Linked DNA regions of Homo sapiens: region 2 is linked to region 1. Evidence: fine-mapped expression QTL. Tissue or cell type: subcutaneous fat. Region 1 holds a variant in brackets; the other region holds the start of a gene. All regions are shown on one strand. Distances are between the middles of the regions.

Evidence for each region. PIP is the estimated chance that this variant, and not a neighbour inherited with it, causes the effect.
Region 2: it holds the start of ACYP1, and the variant in region 1 is fine-mapped to the expression of ACYP1 in subcutaneous fat (GTEx, PIP above 0.99). The same link has a PIP of 0.9 or more in esophagus mucosa.

Annotation. Positions count from the first base shown.
Region 1 is chr14:74,940,603-74,948,706 of GRCh38, forward strand. It overlaps PGF (placental growth factor), which reads right to left. Exons shown (of 7, transcript NM_002632.6): 4 at 7,905-7,981; 5 at 5,777-5,806; 6 at 5,611-5,673; 7 at 1,232-2,131. The coding sequence ends at 2,104. LOC107984690 (a long non-coding RNA gene) reads left to right here and starts at 2,127. Exons shown (of 3, transcript XR_001750826.3): 1 at 2,127-3,830; 2 at 4,638-8,104. RefSeq lists a silencer at 5,857-5,906. The variant A/G (reference allele first, on the strand shown) is at 3,650.
Region 2 is chr14:75,060,677-75,068,780 of GRCh38, forward strand. ACYP1 (acylphosphatase 1) reads right to left here and starts at 3,348. Exons shown (of 3, transcript NM_001107.5): 1 at 3,278-3,348; 2 at 2,794-2,885. The coding sequence starts at 2,877. RefSeq lists an enhancer at 3,519-3,688.

The sequences.
Region 1 (8,104 bases):
CACCCCTTGCAGGTCAGAAGCAGAGTGGAGTTTGATAGTAAGTGGTTTGGATTAAAAAAAAAATAGGCCTGGCATGGTGGCTCATGCCTGTCATCCCAGCACTTTGGGAGGCTGAGGCGGGTGGATCACTTGAGGTCAGGAGTTCAAGACCAGCTTGGTCAACATGGTGAAACCCTGTCTCTACTAAAAATACAAAAATTAGCCGGGCATGGTGGCGCACGCCTGTAATCCCAGCTACTCAGAAGGCTGAGGCAGGAGAATCGCTTGAACCTGGGAGGTGGAGGTTGCAGTGAGCCGAGATTGTGGCACTGCACTCCAGCCTGGGCGACAGAAGGAGACTCCGTCTCAAAAAAAAAACCATTAAAAAATAATAAGAAGATTTATTTTTTTCCTGCCAAAGCACTGAGGAGGAAGACGGAAGGAACTGGGGGGTAAAAGGCAGAGAAATCCGGGCAGCATCTGCTGGTCCTTGCGTCTGTTCAGCAGCCCGAGCAGGCTATACGTGCTGCCGTTCAGCGCCCTGAGACCCAGCCCAGGATGTCTATCAGGAGGGCCGGAGGAGTTCGGGAGTCCTTGCGGCACTGGGCTGGGGCAGCCCTAAGCCCTGGGAGAGGAGGAGATTGTGCTCTTGATGCTGTTAAAAAGTGGCTGGGACCAGCCTCTCCTCAACTTTGGAAACAAAACTACATCTTGGGAGCTCCTCGTTAGGGAAGGGGCGACCCCAGGGTGCTGTAGAAGCAGGTTGGGCGACCTCCGGGGCAGCCTTGAAGTGGCCTCCACAGGAACAGTCTCCAGTGACCACCCAGGGCCACCGAGACTTGAGCCTGGGCCCCAGTAGAAATGTGTCAAAGCCAGAAGAGCCATCTAGCCAGGCCCCTCAGGTCAGAGATGAAACGTGAAGGCAGAGGGAAGCCCAGTGCCACTCGGTGAGTTATAGACAAAGCCAGGCCTCTGACCCCCGCTTCAGTGCTCTTAACTCTCCATCAGCCATTTCACCTTCTTGGGCCTAAGTGTCCTCAGCTGTCAAAAGGAGGAAGGAAGGAGCAAGCTAACATGTTGTCGTGAGCTGTGACATGCCCTCTCGTCGACTGAGCGAGGCTTTTGAGATAAGGAAACTGAGGCTCGGAGAAGGTGCTGTGCTCTTCCTGTTACACCCCGATCCCTGGGTCTGTCTGGCTTCCGTTCCCGGCTGACGCTCACTGCCCCGGAAGACACACCCACTAGATCAGCGTTTCCACACTAGAATACTTTATTCAAGAGAATCTGGCTTGGCAGTCAGATGGCCCTGCAGGGACAGCTTGTGGGGGTGCCAGGGCCCTTGGGGAACCTGCTCCCCTGCCACTGCCTTCAGCTGGGACGCACAGGCTCCTCCCCTGGTGACCTCATCCCCACTGGCTGAGCTGTTTCTCATCCAGGCAGCTCTTTCTCCAGCCCGGGGCCCACTCTGTATGTGTCTCTTAGGGGGGGCAGGGTGGTGGCACCTTGGCCGGAAAGAACAATGTCCCAGTACAAGCAAATGGCAAAGTGTGAGGGGAGATCACGGGGGACAAGGAGTGGCAAAAGCCCCCAGGCAACCACTGTTCTCCAGAGCTGAATGTTCTGATCTTCAGAAGAAGAGGGGGAAGTGGCTGGATCCCCTCCGCCCGCTGCCGGCCTTCCCACCAGCCAGGCCGTGGCGGCCCCAGCAGGATCCGCATCCCTACTTTGGACAGGAGCTCCGAAAGCAAGGGCTGCTTGTCTGTGCAGAGCCTGAGGCCCAAGAACAGGTAGCAGGGCCCCCTTCTTTCCTTCTGCAGGCCCCTGGAGACCTCCAGGGCCTCTGGGGCCTAGCTTGCCCCTCACGAGGCCACGTGTCTTGCTTCTTTCAAAGCGGAAGCTCCCAGGGGTCTGTGGCTGGCTTCTCTCTTTCTCTCACGTTGTTGAAGGCACTGAATTCCTGAGGGTCCTGTCCTTCCCTGCCCCTCGTCTTGAAGGGAGCGAGGCATTCAGCAGGGAAACAGTTGGCTAATAAATAGAGGGCAGGTACCAGCAGGAGTCACTGAAGAGTGTGACGGTAATAAATACACGAGCCGGGTGCGGGGTCTCTCTCCTCCAAGGGGTGGGTTACCTCCGGGGAACAGCATCGCCGCACCTGCCAGAGACCAAGCACAGACGGGGCGGGTATCAGCACACTGTGGAGGGTGCGGTCTCCTCCTATGGAGGAGGGGGCAGGCCCAGAGGAGGAGCTTGGGCAGGGAGCATGGGGAGGGCGCAGTGCTCCTGGGTCCCTGCTTGCTTCAAGCTGAGGAGAAGCTGGGAGCTACCCTTCACCAAACACTTACCCATGTGCCCAGCCCTGTGCCAAGCACTGTCTTCTTAACCCTCAACAACCTTCCATGAGGAAGGCACCCTGATTATTCTTGTGAAGATTAGGAAACTGAGGCCCAGAGAGGTGAAGAAGCTTGCCTGTGGTCACACGGCCAGTCGGTGACAGAGCCACATTTGAACCTAATCACACTCCATGCAATCATGCCTCTGATTACCCTAAGACAGCAGTCTCCAAACAGGGGAGTACCGCTAGACGCACGTGAGGCCTGAGTACTGACGGTTTTAAAGAAATCCATTTTCAGCCTCCAGGTCTACATTGCCTTAAAATTATTTTTGTGAGGCAGTGGCTGAGATCTGCTTCTCTGGCCACAACACATCTTGCTCATTCTAAATCCTCATAAAGTGCTTTGCTGCCAGGTAAAAGTATTCTGAGGACATGAAAAAAAGAACAATTTGAGATATTGATGTAGGTCTTGAGAAAGAAAATATGGCTAATGACTGGGTAACCAAGGCTTTCAACAAAACTGAAGAACAGCTTAACCAAATTGTCAGCCAGGATATCATGAGAAGTAATTTGTTCTTAGCAGAGCACCTTGAGATTTCTGGCAAATAACTTGGAAGGAAGGAGTTCAAGTAATTGAGTGACATCTAGTCTCATTTACTTATTTATGTGAACATGGTTTCTCAACCTTCTCATCAATAAAAAAATGATAAACAGGAATTAAATTAATGCAGAATCCTGTCTCAGTCTGGCAGGAAGTAACATTCATTAATGGATTCATTCACTAATTGAAACGAGGTAGCCACATCCATCTCATTGAGATGCATTCCCAATCAAATTGATTGTATTTTTATGTTGAACATCTATTAAAATAGGAAGTATTTGTGCTGTTTTGACCAAATGGTGCTACTAAGAATTATTTTGATAATTTATTCCAGGAGAAAATTTAATTTAGGTTTATGCTCACAGGAAATTTAAAATAATTCAAACTCATATATCATTTTTTTGTGGCAGATAAATATGACAAGGTAATCAATAAAAGACTTCTGAAAATTAAAAGTACTGTTACACTAGGCTGAAATTCTTGGGGGTGGGGAGTGAAATGGAAATACAAGTTCCAGGAAAAAAGAAACAATGTAAATATATAATTATGAAAGGAAGTGTTCCTGTATTTTTTTTTTTTTTGCTTGTTAATTTTCTTTTTTTTTTTTTGAGACGGAGTCTTGCTCTGTCCCAGGCTGGAGTGCAGTGGCGTGATCTCGGCTCACTGCAAGTTCCGCCTCCCGGGTTCATGCCATTCTCCTGCCTCAGCCTCCCGAGTAGCTGGGACTATAGGCACCC[A/G]CCACCACACCCGGCTAATTTTTTGTATTTTTAGTACAGATGGGGTTTCACCATGTTAGCCAGGATGGTCTCGATCTCCTAACCTTGCGATCCGCCCGCCTTGGCCTCCAAAAGTGCTGGGATTACAGGTGTGAGCCACCGCGCCTGGCCTGCTTGTTCATTTTCTTAAAAGTGGATGATGGTGAGTATAACATTAAAATGGCGTATTTAATAGGATACACCTGGAGAGTGTTCTACAATAGCTTTGTATTAAAATATTAATAATATGCCAGAAATTATATCCTTTGTAATGACTTATACTTTTTTTTTTTTGAGACAGGTTCTTACTCTGTCACCCAGGCTGAGGTGCAGTGGATCTATCTCGGCTCACTGCAGCCTTGACCTCCCAGGCTCAGGTGATCATTCCACCTCAGCCTCCTGAGTAGTTGGGACTATAGGCACATGGCACCACGTCCAGCTAGTTTTTGTATTTTTTTTGTAGAGACGAGGTTTCACCATGTTGCCCCGGCTAGGCTTGAACTCCTGGCCTCAAGCGATCCACTCGCCTCGGCCTCCCAAAGTGCTAGAATTACAGGCATGAGGTACTGAGCCTGGCTTGACTTATAATTCTGATGAAAATGTTCAATGTCAACTTAAGAATGGGCAAGGGAGCACATGGGCTTTTGGAATTCTTTTTTTTTTTTTTTTTGAGACGGAGTCTTGCTCTGTCACCCAGGCTGGAGTGCAGTGGCGTGATCTCGGCTCACTGCAACCTCCGCCTCCCGGGTTCAAGCGATTCTCCTGCCTCAGCCTCCCAAGTAGCTGAGATTACAGGCATGCACCAACACGCCCAGCTAATTTTGTATTTTTAGTAGAGATGTGGTTTCACCGTGTTGGTCAGGCTGGCCTCGAACTTCTGACCTCAAGTGATCTACCCACTTCGGCCTCCCAAAGTGCTGGGATTACAGGTGTTAGCCACTGCGCCCGGCCACTTTTGAAATTCTTTCAGGAGATTCCCGAGTGAAATGTCTGAAGACTGCTGCCTTGGGAACAGGAGCCACGGGACACTTTCTGCCTCCGGCTGCCGGCGGGTAACTCGGGCCTGGATGGACTTCCCTGCCAGCTTGTTTCCCAAATTGCCGCGCGGGCCCAGAAAAGAGATGAGAGCATAAACCCCTAGGGGGCGCAGTCCCCAGGATCCCTGTCTTCATGGAGTGGGGCTCATGGGGTCAGGGCTTGGGTCAACTCCACTCCATAGCACGAAATGACTTCCTGGAGTCACGTGCGTGGGGGAGGCTTAGCCCCTGAAGGAGAGCCACCTCTCTTCAGTGACTGATTGACTGTGCACGTGAAATATTTTATTTTTTCTATTTACTCTCACAGATTTGGGTTTTCCCTCCTCTCATCCTTCTCTCCCAGCCACACTCAGGCCTGGGGCTCCATTCTGCTGCCCACAAGGTACGAAGTGGGTTAGAAGCAGCAAGGGGACCCACAGGCAAAAATACTCCTGGGAGACAGTGGCGAGGGGCACATGTTCCCCGGGGCTACTAGGAAGTGGCCCCAGATAACGTCTCAGCTGATGACAGACTTTTAATCACTAAAAGGTAAACACTAATGTGCAGGAATCCTGTTTGTTTGCTCACAGATGTACCTGACACACAGTAAGTGCTCAGTAAATGTTTGTAGAGTGACTGAATGTTTGCTGGACCTCCTGCCCCTCATTCTACACAGAGAAAAGCTAGGCTGACAAAGGTGAAATGATTTGTTGAAGGTCAATGGAAACCTAGGGCTAAGCCGGGACAAAAACCAAGGTCCACTGATGCTTCCTGGGCCCTAGAGTCTTGAGGAGGTGCAGCTCCCTGTTCTGCCCCCAAGACTGGCCTCAGTCCTGCCTCTCCCCCTCCCCAACCTAACCCTGGCGGCAAGGCGGGGCTCCCCTCGGGCCCAGCCTCCTCGCCATCCCTGGGACCCCGCACACTCACAGGTGGCAGTCTGTGGGTCTCTGCTTCTCTCTCCTCCTCTTCCCCCTGCCCTTGGGTCTCCTCCTGCAATAAGCCAAGCGTCAGGACAAGGTGGCTGGGGAACCCCATGCTAGGACAGAGGCTGGCAGGCCCGAGAATAGCCCCGAGCCCCAGCCAAACCACTTACCTTTCCGGCTTCATCTTCTCCCGCAGAGGCCTAGGGAAACAGACAGAGAGAGGGGCAGAGGAACGTTAGGAAAGCAATAAGTGGGGCTCCCTGCCGCCCGGACAGGTCCCCTCCGACATCCCCAGTCCTGGTCCTGCAGCTGACACTGAGGCCACTAGGGGGTAGCATGGAGTTGGCAAGGGAGAGGTGGCCAGAGCCTCAAGGCTTCACTCCCACTCCAGGCTCTGGTGACCCCACCACGAGAGGGACAAATCAACCTCCTGGGGACCCCTGCCACCCGCTTCTGCACTTCTCAGCCTCTTGGCATCAAATTTGGTTGTTTCTGTCTGTTCTCTGTTGCTTTTTCTTTCTCACTTTCTTTGCTGCTTTTTTCCGTTCCTTCCAGGGTGCATTCTGGGAATTTCCTCAGGGACAGGAGATGATGGCCAGACAGCGGACTGGCTGCCTGTCAGGGCACAGCCCCACTCCATCCGGAACAACATGGGGAGTGAGCGACGGGGTGGGAGGAAGGAGGGAGCATCAGCCCTGAAGTCACCAGGCATGTCTGGGCTCTGCCTCCCAGGGCTGTGGCTGTTGGCCCAGAAGCAAGAAGAAAGGTGTCCCTGTTGCCTGGCCCCTGGCAGGGGATAGGGCCTCAGTCTTCACTGGGAACAGTGGGTAGAGACATGGGACAGCATGGTAGCAGTCAGCTTTGGGGCCAGGACATGCTACCCTCAGCTGGTTCCTCCCTTGGGAGCCAGGGCAAGGTACCAGGGCCTCTTGGGACTGTCTGGTTGTACCTCTCCATATTGGGCAAGTGACAGACACTCTTGGAACCTCAGTCTCTTCATCTGCCTGCCCCAAAAGAGTGGCTGTCAGGGCAAAGGGGATGGAGAAGGTGACTCTGGGTCACCACCCAGCATTGCACCCAGGAGGGTTCATTACCGAGCTCTTGTTATATGGCTAAGCTCTGGCTTGGAGGGATGGGTGGAAACAAGTTGAGGCAGGGTCTCCAACACTCCAACAAAAGGGGCAGCCATAGCCCTGCCCAGGAGGCAAGGCTAAGCCTGGGGGCTATTAGAAAAGTGGTCATGGCCATGAAAGGTAGCCTGAAAAACGAAGGCTTACGAGTTAGGTCAGGGCCCAGAATCCCTCCTCCCACACTCACTAGCTGTGATAAATCATGAAACTGTATTGAGCCTTGATTTTCTCATCTGTAAAATGGGGATGACAATAGGGCCTACCTCCCAGGGTTGTTATGAGAGCAGGAACCTTGCTCACCACTGCATCCCATCAGGACAATGCCTGGCATGTGGTAGGTGCTCAATAAATGTATGTGACTAAATGAGAAACATTCAAGTGCCTCCTGCGGGGCTAGGCACAGAATAGGTACACAATAAGTGGTAGTCTTCCCTCCTGCCGCCCCTGGCTAGGGCTCTGGACTTCTAGTCTGGTGCCTTCATCCATGGCCCAGTAGTACCAGGAGCAGCAGCTCAGCCCATTTCTCTCTTCCCTGAACCTAGCTGGCAGTGCCAGGCCTGTTGCTCCTGCTAACCAATGTTCCAAGTGCCCCCAGCACAGGCAGCAAGACTGGTGCTGGTCAGAGGCTCTGTGGATTGGGAGGGGCCGTAGAGGGGTGCTGCAACATCAAGGAAGCCACAGTGTCACTCTTCTTCTGCCCCTTTTCTCCTACCCGAGCTTGTCCTTCTTGCTGCTTCTCAGCCCCGTTTGCCCGCTCCTGTGGGCACACAGCTTGCCCCAGAACGAAGTTCAGACTTGCAATGTCTTTGCCTCCAGGCACCTCTTTCAGAGGCCCGTGGCAGCTGCCTCCCATCCCAGAGAAGGGGAACGACACGCACCGAACCCCTGCGAGGCTGGGAGGGACCCACCCTCTCTCTTCCCTTGCAGTATCTCAACAGCTGTACCCCAGCTGCTGGGACCAGCTCCCTTGGCAAAACTGGCTGGTGGGGGGACAAAATGAATGGTAGCCACCCCTGGTCCTGCCCTCTTGGTCTCCCTCAGTCTGGAAAAAAGTTCAGCCCGCAGCGGGGATGGGCAGCCTTTGCCTCTGCCCTGGGACCCATCTTTGCTGAGGCTGCCAAGAGGACGGGGGCCTTTCCTTGCTACCCACCCGACCCCGGAGACCTACCGGCATTCGCAGCGAACGTGCTGAGAGAACGTCAGCTCCACGTAGGAGGGCCGGTCCCCAGAACGGATCTTTAGGAGCTGAAGGAAGAAAGAGTTGATGCCTGGATTGGGGAGTGGCCCACGAGTTTCCGGCACTCTTCTCTCTCTCCTTGTAAGGAGAACCCGACTCTGTTTCCTGCTAGCCTGTGGACTACAGGCCCT
Region 2 (8,104 bases), 120 kb after region 1:
ATGCTACAGTGTAGATAAACCTTGAAAACAATATGTTAAGTGAAAGGAGCCAGTCACAAAAAAAGGCCACATTTGTATGATTCCATTTATATTAAATATCAAGAATAGGCTGAACACGGTGGCTCATGCGTGTAATCCCAGCACTTTGGGAGGCTGAGGTAGGTGGATCACCTGAGGTGAGGAGTTCAAGACCCAGCCTGGCCAACATGGTGAAACCCCATCTCTACTAAAAATACAAAAGTTAACTGGGCATGGTGGTGCATGCCTGTAATCCCGGCTACCTGGGATGCTGAGGGAGAAGAATCACTTGAACCCAGGAGGCAGAGGTTGCAGTGAGCCGAGATCACGCCACTGCACTCCAGCCTGGGTGACAGAATGAGGCAGAGTTGAGACTCTGTCTCAACAACAACAACAACAACAACAACAATCTAGAATAGGCAAATCCATAGAGACAGAAAGTAGGTTAGTGGTTGCCAGGGGCTCAGGGGATGAGGAGTGAGTGCTAACCTAGGTAGGGGTTTCTTTTTGGGATGATGAAAATGTTCTGGAATTAGTGCAACATTTTGTGAATATACTAAAAATCACCAAATTATACACTTTAGGAGGATGGGTTTTATGGGATGTAAATTATATTCCAAGTTTTCAAAAGTCCCTGAATTATTATTTGTCACTTCTCTAGAAATGAAGGAATTTAAATAAGAGGCTAGATAATATCAACAGCAAACATTGCAGCAAAACAACTGTTCAAATGAACATATATATTTAAATGATTATAAATAGTAAAGAATAAGCTACAAGCCTAATTAAGAAAAAATAGATGTCATTTTATATGCAGTTTTCCAATCAATATTTGTTTTTCTGCATTCTGTTATTCTCTCTTTAAACTGGGGAGAGGGGCAGGTAGAGAAAGATGGGCTATGCATACCACTATCTGACCCTTTTCCCTCAACAACTTTGACTAATCTTTGAAGCTGTTATCTCAATCACCTTAATTTACAGGAACTTACCTGCATAACTGGTAGCAAAGCTAACTGGAACACAGCTCTTGCTGTGAGTTTCAGCAATTCTGTTTTCAACAGTCATTTCCTATTTGAGTGTCAGATGGGAAGAAATGATTTTTGAATAATTAGAAAAAGAGGTATTGGCCGGGCACAGTGGCTCACACCTGTAATCCCAACACTTTGGGAGGCCAAGGTGGGCGGATCACCTGAGGTTGGGAGTTCAAGACCAGCCTGACCAACATGGAAAAACCCTGTCTCTACTAAAAATACAAAATTAGCGGGGCATGGTGGCACATGCCTGTAATCTCAGCTACTTGGGAAGCTGAAGTAGGAGAAACGCTTGAACCCGGGAGGCGGACGTTGCGGTGAGCTGAGATCGTGCCATTGCACTCCAGCCTGGGCAAAAAGAATGAAACTCTGTCTCAAAAAAAAAAAAAAAAAAAAAAAGAAAAGAAAAGAAAAAGAGGTATTGGCTGGGTATGGTCACTCATGCCTGTAATCCCAGCACACTGGTGGGAGGCCGAGGCAGAAGGATCACTTGAGCCTGGGAGTTTGAGACCAGCCTGGGCAACATAGCTCTCTGTTAAAAGAGAAAAAAAAAAAAAAAGCTGGGTGTGGCGGCATGCACCTGTGGTCCCAGCTACTTGGGAGGCTGAGGAAGGAGGATCATTTGAGCCTGGGAGGTTAAGGCTGCAATAAGCTGTGACTGTGCCACCATCCTTCAGAAAAAAAAAAGAAAAAGGGAAAGAGGTATTGACAATTCACATTCATGTTTCAAAGATTCCTTCCAGGTTAGAATTTGAATTTTAAGTACCACAGTCCCAGGAATGAGACACTTAAGAAGTTCTGCAGTCCTGGCCGGGTGCGGTGGCTCACACCTGTAATCCCAGCACTTGGGGAGGCTGAGGCGGATGGATCACGAGGCCAGGAGTTCAAGACCAGCCTGGCCAAGATGGTGAAACCCTGTCTCTACTAAAAATACAAAAAAAAAAAAAAAAAAAAAAGAAGTTTTGCAGTCCTAACTCATTATCTGTGGGATTAGCGACACACTGGGAAGGCAATAGCCAATACCTACAGAAGGCAGAGGGTAAATTGAGCTTGCATTTGTGTGTGCCTGTTGAGGGAAGATTAGCCACATTAAAGCAGAGGTAGAGGCTGCCAACAGTTTGTCCATCCCCTCAAATAATCCTTTATTGCTCTAGGAAGAATACCAGGCTCCACATTCAGTGTTCCCATCACCTATTCTGGAATGGATAAAGAGTTTTTAATAAGAAAAACGTCAGCTGGAAAAGGTAAATGTTCTTTCAAAACCAAAAAAGAATAGAAAGAAATTAAGTGGAGAACTGAGGGAAGCTTGGAGAAAGAGGTCTGAAGAAAGTGCAGCAGCTGCAGAGGAAGCATTTATATATGTTATATACATGACATCAGGTCATCTAAATGCCAGCTCTTCAATCAATGTTAGCCTTTCTATAAGAAACCTGACTTGGTTTGATGATGCCACAACGGCGAGCACTGGGGAAGCCCTCTATTTCCCTTGGAAGAGAGAAGCTCATTAATATGTGTATCTAGATGCTCAGGCACCACTGACTAATAATAACAGCAGGGTGATCTTCCATTTACACCATGTTTTACCGATTGCACAGCATTTTCATACTCATTGCTCTACAAACTACCTCTTTGCCATGCAGCTACCAAATAGCCAGCGGCTTCTAGTTCACATTTGTCAAGAACACGTCCCTTGTTCCTATGCCCACAACCTAGGTTACCACCCCAAAGCCTGCAGGCCACATACCTGAGTATGCTTACGGAAAAACACCCCTTGCACCTTCCCAAAAATTTCATAATCCACTGATATCAGGGTGTTTCCTTCTGCCATGCTCAAACCTGTCAGAAACCAGGAAAGCAGAAGAGTGAAGGGCTATTATTCCAGGACCCGCAAGCCTGAGTCAGAAAGGGCCACACCCACCCCTGTCCATCCTTAACCATTGCGACCTCTCCCCGACTTCAAGGTCCTGGAAATGGAAACGTGAGTGGATGTGATAAGGTGTGTGTGAAGGAAGAACCAGACGCCGGGAGAGGGAGCTTCGGATCGCAGCTGCCCGCTGAAGCCTCTTCTGGGGAAATAACCTGAGGACCGATGACCTCCTTACATCCATGCCCGGTCCCGCTCCCTCACTACCAGAATTCCCTGCTACTAACTCCCAGAATCCCCTGCTACTAACATTTTAGGGCTAATCGACCTGAGAAGCACACCCTGGGGGCCCCTGGCGGCTCACCCTCCTTGTCTTCCCCACCGGCTGCCAGGATCACTCCGGGACCACCACGCCAACGGCTCACCAAGGCGCGCAAACCTCCGCGCCCGGAAGTTTAGTGTGTAGCTGCTCCTTCGCTGTCGCTCATGCCCATCACCTCCAGCTGACCAATCAGAGACGGCGCCTCGGCCCGGGCCCGCCCAGAAGGTGGGATTTCAGGACGCGGTTGTCCGGCAACCCAAAAGCTTTGGGTTGGGGATCTGTCCAGGAACTCGGCTGGGCCTCCACAAACCTAGCCCTCATCGCATCTCAGTCAACAAGCGCAACCCTCTTCTCATTTTCTCATGAGGAGAAAGGCATAGACGAAGAAGTACATGGGGATACATTCAATCATTCAATTAAATACTGACTGACAGCTACTGTGTGCCAGGCACCTGTTCTAGGTGACCAGGCAAACATCAGTGAACAAAACAGGATCCCTGTCCTGAGGAGCTTAATTCTGGAGGTGAGAGACAAACAGCACACATTAAACATCATAAATAGCTTGTAATCTCAGCACTTTGGGAGGCCGACACGGGCGAATCACTTGAGGTCAGGAGTTCGAGAGCAGCCTGGCCAACATGGTGAAACCCCGTTTCTACCAAAAATACAAAAATTGGCCGGGCATGGTGGCGGGCGCCTGTAATCCCAGCTACTCGGGAGGCTGAGGCAGGAGAATCGCTTGAACCTGGGAGGTGGAGGCTGCAGTGAGCCGAGATTGCCCCACTGCACTCCAGCCTGGGCAACAGAGGGAGACTCTGACTCAAATAAATAAATTAATAAATAAAAAAATAAACATCATAAATATGTTGAGTAGGATACATTTAACCTTTCTGTCCTTTTTCATTCAGTTCTCCTTAAAGTTTGGGTCATAACAATCTGGAATAGGGGATTACGGGGCATAAGTGCACAGGAGGTCCCAATGGAGGTTATGTCTGCTTCTGGGCTTCTGGAAGCTACTCACCGGTCTCCTTTACTAAGAAAATGTCAAATAATGCTTGAACAAATAACCAGCTAACTACACAAATAAAGCAAGAGCACAAGCAAAATAACTCATGGCTCCAGAATTACAGTTGAGTCAGTCAATCTAAGCCAAATGGCCAAACTACACGAATTTATTTTGGGAACAGGGAATTGTCAAGGGGGATGTGGATGAAGATGGTTAAAATTAGAGTTGATGTGTAAACATTTGAATCCAGCTACCCTTATGATTCATGTGTGTGAAGGAAAACTGTGGTGTTTATTGATCCTCTGTGGATTGACTGTATACATTACACCTCTTCATAACGTAAAGACTCCTTATGTGAATATGCCAGGTTGGCAGACTTGACAATGAGATATGGGTTTGTGACAGTAGGCACGGAAATTCATCATTCTGCTAGTTCCCCGCTAGAGTGAGGATCCATATCCTAGAGAATCATACAACCTTAGTGCTGAGAGGTGGGGGGTTGGTGGTGAACAAGCTGGATTGAATGTTGTACTTGGCAATATTTGAAAATAACTCTAAATAGAGTATCTTGCTAATGGTATTTCTTTCTCTAAAATTCATTTAAAAAATAGTTTATAGAATTCAAAACTTACTGAGTGTCTAATACGAATGGGGCACTCTAGGATATACAAAGATGAATGATATAAAATCTTTGCCCTCAAAGAGTTTTTAATTTAGTGTAGGGGCACAAATGCATGCAAATAATGACAATAAAATATATGGCATGATAATTTAATTCCATGAAAATCCATTGAGAGCTCATCAGGAACCAGCCCTGTGCTATAACAAGGACAGAAAATATTACAAAGGAGCAAACAAATTAATTCTGATTGGGAAGACAGGGAAAGAGTTCTTGGAGGAAACAGCATTTAATCCAAGGTCACACAACCAGTAAGTGATGGAGCTGGGATTTGGTTCCAGAGTCAATCCCCATGAATGCTATGCTCTACCAGCTCCCAGTATGTGGAGCTTAGAGTAATGTAGTACCATGGAGATGAAGAAGTACAAGTAGCCAGTTGTGGCTAGACCAGGGGTTTGCTACCCTGCTTGTGCATCAGGATCTTTGGGGAAGCTTTAAAAATGTTAATCCTCAGGCCTCACCCCTAGATATTGCTTTCCAAGTAGTCTTAACACACAGTCAGGGATGAGACTCACTGGGTTGAACTCTGTGGCTTATTAAGGGGAGGCAAAACTGAAAAGGTAGGCTGGACCTAATCTGGGAGGTAGAGATGCCATGCTAAATTATGCATTTCAACTTTATTCTATAGGTAAAGAAGAAGCTACTGGGGAGGGAAATGGTAGGATCAGAAGCATTTAGTAATTAGCTTGATTTAATCACTGCACAATGCATACATTATCAAAACATCACTTTGTACACTGCAAATATAGATATAATTTTTGCTTGTCAATTATATTTTAATAAAGCTGGGGGGGGGTGGAGAAATATTTAGACTGATTATTTTGCCTGCAGCATGAAGGATGGGTTTGAAGAGCAGATATTGAAGGCAAGAGCAGAAGTTAGGAGGGCTATGCCATCCCAAGGAGAAGTGAGGAAAAACTCACCTGGGGCAGCAGAAATGTAAAGGAAGAGTCATATATGAGAGACATTGCAGAAGTAAACTCAATAGGCCAGGCGTGATGGCTCACGTTTGTAATCCCAGCACTTTGGGAGGCTAAGGCAGGTGGATCACCTGAGGTCAGGAGTTTGAGACTGATGAAACCCCATCTCTACTAAAAATACAGAAATTAGTTGGGCGTGGTGGTGCACACCTGTACTTCCAGCTACTAGGGAGGCCAAGGCAGGAGGATTGCTTGAACCTGAGAGGCAGAGGTTGCAGTGAGCTGAGATCGCGCCACTCCACCCCCATCTGGATGACAGAGCAAGACTGTCTCAAAGAAAAAAAGGAAGAAAACTCAATAAAACTTGTGATTAGTTAGAAGGAAGAGGCAACAAAGAGGGAAGCATGGAAGACTGATGCTGTGAGCATGCAAGGGCACACTGGAGAGGCAGATTTGAGAATGGGAGAGGATCAGAGTTTATGTTGTCTTACAGAATTTGAGGTTCCTAAGGAACAATCTTGTGGAGGTGTCAAATGGGCAGTCCTGAAATTTGAGTCTGTAACTAATGAGAAAGACTAAAGCTAAGCTGGCTGTCATTTAAACACAGGTGAAACCTGAAATTTCAGCATTTGGTTGAAATCATTAAAGAAGAGAATGTCTGGAACTACACACACACACACACACACACACACACACACACACACACACACATATATATGAAATAAGAGGGCTTCAGAAAACACTTAAATTTAGGGAGTAGATGGGGAAAAGATAAATGCCAGACTTGGAAGAAGATGGAGCAAGAACATGAAAGAAGAAACCAAGAGGGCACAGGAGAACTGAGAAGAGCATTCTAAGTGGGTGGATAATCAGTAATGTCACATGAGTAGGCTGAAAAAATGAAGCTTTTGTCTTTGGAAAGTCACTGGTAGCTTTGTAGTTAAATAAAGTGGAGAAAGTAGAAGACAGGCCACAATGAACTGGACAATGACGGGGAGATGAGGATATGTGGGCAGCAAATGTGGAGATTTCCATTAAGAAGTCTTGTGGAGAAGAGGAGAAATGAATGGGACTGTAATATGAAAGTTAGGTCAAGGGAAGTAAGGTTTGTTTTGCAGGGGAAAGTTGAGTATATGTTAAAACCAAAGAGACAGAGTTTATGGAGAGGTATAACTTGAAGTTAACAAGATGCAGACAGGGTGCCGTCTCTCACGTCTATAATCTCAGTACTTTGTGAGACTGAGGCGGGAGGATCTCTTTTGACTCCAGGGGTTTGAGACCAGCCTGGGTAACAAAGGGAGACCCTGTCTCTACAGAAAAAAAAAAAAGAAGTAAGCTGGGTGTGGGGGGCACACACCTGTAGTCCCAGCTACTCGGGAGGCTGAGGTGGGAGGATCACTTGAGCTGTGGAAGTTGAGGCTCCAGTGAGCAGTGATTGTGCCACTGCACTTCAGCCTGGGCAACAGAGTGAGGCCCTGTCTCAAAAACAAAGGCCAGGCCCGGTGGCTCATGCTTGTAATCCCAGCACTTTGGGAGGCTGAGACAGGCGGATCACCTGGGGTCAGGAGTTCAAGACCAGCCTGGCCAACATGGTGAAACTCTGTCTCTACTAAAAATACAAAAAATTAGCCAGGTGTAGTGGCAGACGCCTGTAATCTCAGCTACTCGGGAGGCTGAGGCAGGAGAATCACTTGAACCCAGGAGGCAGAGGTGGCAGTGAGCTAAGAGTGCGCCACTGCACTTCAGCCTGGGCAACAAAACAGGGCGAGATTCCGTCTCAAAAAACAAAAAACAAACAACTTTAAAAAACCCCAAAAACCAACAAAACAGAAAACAAAACAAAACAAAAATGCAGGGGTAAAGTGATGGAGTCAATTCCCGGAGGGTACTGAAAAGGACTAATTCAAGAGAACTCAATGGAACTCAATGGAAAGTCGCCCTTCTTTCTCATAGAGGAGAGGGAAGGAGAGAGAGAGAGGAGAGAGGGAGACAGACAGAGACAGAAACAGAGGAGAGAGGGAGAGGAGGAAGAAGAGAGAGAGACAGAGAGAGAGAGAAAGAGAAAAAGAAAGCCGGTAAATTCTGCTGAGGGAAGCTGTGGGAGTTGATAATCGGGACCCTGAGTGGAGTGGGAAACGTCTGGAGCTGCATATACGGAGAGGCGGTAGAGTCAACTAGGGATGAAAACGAGGAATTAAAAAAAAAAAAAAGACTGATCTGGAGGGTCCACCAAGGAATTTCCTTGTAACGGGTAACAGCTGTAA